2 linked regions of the Homo sapiens genome follow. The protein of the gene in region 2 purifies or fractionates together with the protein of the main gene of each other region. This does not show direct contact. Each region holds a gene or a part of one and is shown on either strand. Other genes may lie near its edges.

Region 1 (2,917 bases), on a different chromosome or scaffold from region 2:
CAGGCCATTTTAGATGGGGTACACATGTCCCTTCCCAGGGTCCACTCAGAACTTTCCTCTTGGACTCTCTAGAAGGTCCTGCTGTCCTATACCTGGCCACCCCCTGCCTTGGGGGGCACATGTCTTCGTTCCCTCCCGACTGGGAATGTCAGGCTCCTGCAGGCCAGCTGCATGCTCTCCAGGAGCACCAACTGGGAAATCCCCTGACAGGTAAAGTCCTTTAAAATGATACTTTTACCTACCTAACTCTGGGGGCCAAATGCTTAAGAGGGAAAGGAAACAGTCGAATGCAAACAGTGTGTCATACCAGAGTCCTGGAAAATTTATTGAATCACACAGGGTAGTCATAGAACCCCTGTGGGATGGCTTAATATTTTGCTACTTTAAAATGCAGAGATAACAGAAACAATCTGGATTTTCTTCATTCAGCTGATAAGAACTTCAGTTCCAGTGGCTGTATGACATAATTTTGCCTGTACCCAGGAGCATTTTTTAAAATACAGGATTTTAAAAGCAATGTTAAGTTGCTGATCTAACTAGTAAATTTGCTCCTAAGTGTCATTTACAGATTATTTCTGTTGAAACTGCAAACAGATTTAGAAAGGCACAGGGACTGAATGACTCTCTGTCTTACACAGCTACTCATGCACACACGCACTGCTTACTAAAAGCTGAAGTGAGATGAAGGGGGCCTACACGAATAACAAGTTCAACTTCTTTGTGCCTGGAAAGGAGGGACTGGAGCAGCCAGGAGACTCACTTTCCCCCCTCGCTTGGGCCCTTCTCTATGCCTTAGTCTCTCCAGCACATGCACACAGCATGCACACACACGCACCCTACCCAAAGACAGCTGTGGCCCTCTCCCACCACCTCCCCCTTCCCACCGCTGGTTGTTGGGGGCTGGAGGCGGGAGGTCCCATGGAATTTGTTCTGGTTTCTAGGATGTAAACGAGGACTCCAAGCCATGAATTGCCCTGCTTTCTAGAGGGTGGAATGTTGACCCTGCAACTTTAGAAGCACAATCATTTATTAATAATTTTTTTGAAACTCCCATCTACCCCTGTTAGAGAAATCAACAGGTTCTAGGAATTAAATATGTCTCTTTGTAACCCAGAGCATGTTCAATTTTTGGAAACCGTATTTCAGTGATTTTCTTAATACCTTACATGTGTAGGGCATCTTCCCCCAGAATCTTACAGTCCCTTTCTGTGAAGAGAAGTGGACACACGTGGGAACTCTCACCATCTCTGGACTGTCGTCAGGAAACGCCTGCAGGTCCTTGCCCTGTCTGTATGGTGTCCTCACTTCTCCATCCATACAGGTGGCTCCAGTGGGCATTTTTTTATTTTAAATTTTTTACATGAAGCAATAGAAGTACAAAATACTTATTTTTTCAAAATTTAATGTGTTCCATGAAACCTGTTGGCAGTCGCTTTCCTTCCCCCACATCTAAATTCTTTGGTTTTTAGTTGTTTGTTTTTTGGATTTTTTTTTTTTTTTTTTTGGCCTTGTATCCCAAGGACTAAAAGATTAGCACAGACACGTTTTGATGTTGAATGAACTAGTAAGTCACAGTAGGTGGTAGTCTTCATTGATTTCTCTGTAAGTTTTTAAAGAATGTATGAAGATAGTCACGAATGTACTGAGTGTTCGCATCCCCCTTCAGTTCACCTTGGCTGTGTCTACAGGACAACAAATGTTTGACAGGGAATAAAGTCGTGTCTGGTGTCATTTGCGCTAGCGTGCCCCTCCCCTTTCGGTGTTGGCTCCAAACCTTCCTTTCCTTTTATGTTTGTGGGGAGTGGGGAACCACATCAGCAGCAATCATCAACCAACCAACCAATGGGATCTACTTAGTGGTGAATAGATTGGCTATTTAATTGGTAAAAGTTGCTGGTCTGACCACACCACAGCATGACCACTGGGTTCATTTAGAGATGGCCTCCGTTTCCAACGTTCCCCACAAATGTTTGCTTCTTTCCCAGTCAAGAGGGGATCTCGAGACTCCCGAGTGGAGGTCGTGAGCTTGCACCCCGCCTGGCTGTGTAGATCGACTGTATAGATACATGAAGTGGGGGTGAGGGCCAAGGGGCTATTACTGCTGTTGGGAAATACTTGCCTCTCGTAGATCCAGCCTTAATGTTTTTCTGACATCCTAGTAATAGCAGACCCTGCACAAAGTGGATATCAGACTTAATACTGTGAGGAGACAAAATAATGAGAATAGTTTTACCAAAGATAATGAAATCTCGCATCATGTCTGCATTTTACCATAGATTGGAGTGCATCCTTAGGAAACTGAATGTAACAAAAACCCAGGACATTTTTGGAAATTGTATGCTCTCTAGCAACTTTGTGTGAATTTTTATACAAACACTGTTTTATGAGTTATATAAAATGTTATAAAAATAGAAAAACATGGTCTCGTAACATGTTATTTTCTTAGAGCACTGGTCTCTCAGAATATGTCTTGGTCTATTTGTCTTTGTGCGTGGCCTCCTCACCCACCTCCCAGGGAAGAACGTGAATATTCCGGGGGATTTCAGCTTCTGGGGCTTCCATACTCTACGTGTCAGGGGTACAGCTCATAGGATTTCAGTTTGGCCACAGCTGAATGAATGAGAAATTGCCAGATAAATCCTCCAAACCATTTCTCCACAAACCACTTCCTGGCCATGTAGTGGGAGGCTTGTTTGACCTTTTTTAACCTTTCCTGGTCAGGTGCCAGGCCAGTCCTGCAAAGCCAGCAGAGTTTCATTTTCATTTAACCGCCTTTTTTTTTTTCACTTTGGATCAAATGGGTTTTAGTTTCCCGCCGCCCCAACCCTGCTAGAGTGCAGTGGTATAATCATGGCTCACTGCAGCCTCGACTTCCTGGGCTCAAGTGATCTTCCTGCCACAGACTCCTAAGTAGCTG
Region 2 (3,500 bases):
ATCATTAAGGTTTTAGCTTAACTTCATCTTAACTGAAAGTACTGAAATTTTCTACTTAGTCTTTGTTAACCAAAACAAGTCAGAGTGTTCTATGTCTTTATGAAGAATACAAAGCATCAATATGGAACTATGGAAATGGATTTTAAGGCAAGAAACAATTGAACAGCTAAATCAGTGATAAATTACTAGGTATTATTATTCAAACAGTGTAGGCCCCCACTGAATAACTTTACTAAATTTTTGCTAAACATCAATACCTACACTGTTTTCCTTAACAATCAAGGAAAGCTGATCAATTTTCTGTAAAAGCTCTTTTTCTATCCGTTCTTGTTCCTGTTGCAACCAACTCCGTGCAGATAATATCTGGTTACTGAGTTCCTCAACTGTACCTTTAAATCTAAAAAAAAAAAATTGCAAGTTAGATGTAAAACAGTTTATTTTTTATTTTTTTTATTTTAAGTTCCAGGGTACATGTTGAGGATATACAGATTTGTTACACAGGTAAACATGTGCCATGGTGGTTTGCTGCATCTGTCAACCCATCACCTAGGTATTAAGCCCTGCATCTATTAGCTATTTTTCCTGATGCTCTCCCTTGCCCCCCCCATGCCCCCAAGCCCCAGTATGTGTTGGTCCCCTCCCTGTGTCCACATGTTCTCATTGTTCAGCTCCCACTTATAAGTAAGAACATGTGGTGTTTGGTTTTCTGTTCCTGTGTTACTTTGCTGAGGATAATGGCTTCCAGATCCATCCATGTCCCTGCAAAGGGCATGATCTCATTCCTTTTTATGGTTGCACAGTATTCCATGCTATATAAGTACCATATTTTCTTTATCTAGTCTATCATTGATGGACATTTCGGTTGATTCCATATCTTTGCTATTGTGAACACTGCTGCAGTGAACATACGTATGCATGTATCTTTGTAACTGAATGATGTATATTCCTTTGGGTATATGCCCAGTAATGGGATTGCTGGGTCAAATGGTATTTCTGGTTCTAACAATTTTTTTTAATGACATCATACAATATCAATTTCCAACTATCATATTTCTGGTATATATGCCAACATTAAACTAGGCTCAATCAGAATTACATATTTTCCTTTTCTTAGAATTGCACTTAGCACTAACATGGGAAGCTGGTAAGGCGGGAGAATACAACAGATAAACCATCTGATTGTGCTTCCTACCCACGAGGAGTACGCGGCACAGGCACTGAGGTGACACAGCGACACAGAGCTGGGCCAGCCACAGACCCCGGCAGTTCCGAGGGTCCACGATACTCCTGGCTCAGAGGACACAGTGTCTCTCATCTCCTCTTCTAGGGTCCCCTTCTTCCCCAGGCTCTTCCTCCTAGTCCCTTTTATCTCTTGGGACTAGAACCTGGCTCCCTTTCTCTCTAACGTTCCCCAAATTGCCCTTGTCCTCTATGGATATTTCCTAATGTAAATCAAAAGAAAAATTGAAAGAAAAAAATAAAACCCTCCCATCCTTCCATTCCTCTCCCTTCCCAAATTCCTTATAACTGTCCATACCTGCTACCTCCCTCTTAATTACTTCTTTCCAGTTTTTATTATAATATGTAATAAAATACAGAAGAATGTATGTGATGTAGACATGTGACTTAAATAGTGATAACATGAACACCCATTGTAGTAGAGCTACCACTTGTCCTGCAATATCTGTTCTCTTCTTCTTCCTTATTAAGAAGCCCTCAAATGTTAACTGGGTACATGGCTGCCTAGCCAGAGACCACATTTCCCAGGATCCCTTGCAGCGAGATATAGCCTCATGATGCATCAAAGTCATAAGCACGCCTTTCCAGTCCTATCTTTAAAAACAAAGCTTCTGCCCTGGACTCTCTCCCTGTCCCAGGTGACTGGGAAGGGACGAGGACTGGAGCCTTGGAAAAACCACACTGAGTTGCGACTGCTGCCTGTCTCCTCTGGACCACTGATCTCCGCACTGTTATGTGAGAGCCAGCATGGAAGCTAGCCTGTACCCTAAGTACACAACCGTGAACCCCTGCCAGGTAAGACATGGAACACTGCCAGGACCTTAGAAGACCCAAGTGTACTTTGCGATCACCCCACAACCCAAGAAGTAACCATTAACTGGAACTTATTGTTCTTCATCATTTTATTCTATTGGTTTGGATCTTAAAACAGCATATTTTTCAGCATTGCTTTTTTTTTTTTTTTTTTTTTTTTTTGAGATGGAGTTTCGCTCTGTCGCCCAGGCTGGAGTACAGTGGTGTGATTTTGGCTCACTGCAACCTCTGCCTCTCAGGTTCAAGTGATTCTCCGGCCTCAGCCTCTTGAATAGCTGGGACTACAGGCGCGCACCACCATGCCCAGCTAATTTTTGTATTTTTGTACAGACAGGGTTTCACCATGTTGGCCAGGCTAGTCTCCCAAACTCAAGTGATCTGCCTGCCTTGGCCTCCCACAGTGCTGGGATTACAGGCGTTAGCCCCCTCGCCTGGCCAGCATTGCATATTTTTAAATTTTATACAAATGGAACGTACTAAAGTGTGAGTTTTCTACTCATTTTTCACTCAACATATGTCTGTGAGATTCATTCATGCTGATTTGTATAGCTGTAGTGAATTCATTTTCATTGTTGAATAATATTCAATTTTATGAATATACCACAGCTTATCCAGTCTTCTGTTGATGGACATTTGTTTTGGTTTGTTTTTATCCATCTTTGCTATTAAAAATAATGCTGTTATGGGCCGGGTGCAGTGGCTTACGCCTGTAATCCCAGCACTTTGGGAGGCCGAGGTGGGCAGATCACGAGGTCAGGAGATTGAGACCATCCTGGCTAACATGGTGAAACCCCATCTCTACCAAAAATACAAAAATTAGCTGGGCATGGTGGCACGTGCCTGTAGTCCCAGCTACTCGGGAGGCTGAGGCAGGAGAATCGCTGAACCCGGGAGGTGGAGGTTGCAGTGAGCCGAGATCAAGCACACTGCGCTCCAGCCTGGCGACACAGCAAGACTCCATCTCAAAATAAATAAATAAAATAAATAATAATGCTGTTACAAAAATACTGATACATAGCTCCTGGTTCACATTTGGGAGAATTTCTCTAGGGTCTGAACACGTCCAACTTTTCCAGAAAACACCAGACTGTTTTCTAGAGTGGTTGTACTACTTCACATTTTACTCAGCGCTATAAAGAGGTCCTGTTCCCCACATCCTTGCTAACACTTTCACATATCTGATGTGAACCCGTGTCCTTTGGATTTCTTCTAATGTTTGGAAATTATACCAATTTTATTCTTTTAGAATGGAAATTTTAATACACACATTTAATTTATCAAAGTCTAAAGTTATTCAATGTTTCTAATTTGATCCTGAAAAACTCCTAAGAATAATTTCAGAAATCTTCCTCCTCATTTAGATGTTGTCATTGACCTATATTTTAGTTGTGTTTTGATCCTCTGCAAATCTGACTTTAATATTACTGTTTGTTTAGATTTGCCCAATG

Evidence for each region.
Region 1: the proteins of FAM81A (region 2) and BEND3 purify together in Homo sapiens (affinity purification with mass spectrometry; one large-scale study listed by BioGRID and IntAct). This does not show direct contact.

Annotation. Positions count from the first base shown.
Region 1 is NC_000006.12:107,064,682-107,067,598, reverse strand, and holds the end of BEND3 (BEN domain-containing protein 3), read left to right. Parts: 3' UTR 1-2,417; downstream 2,418-2,917. UniProt on the Homo sapiens protein: Transcriptional repressor which associates with the NoRC (nucleolar remodeling complex) complex and plays a key role in repressing rDNA transcription.
Region 2 is NC_000015.10:59,511,186-59,514,685, reverse strand, and holds part of FAM81A (protein FAM81A), read right to left. Parts: intron 398-3,500; coding exon 262-397; intron 1-261.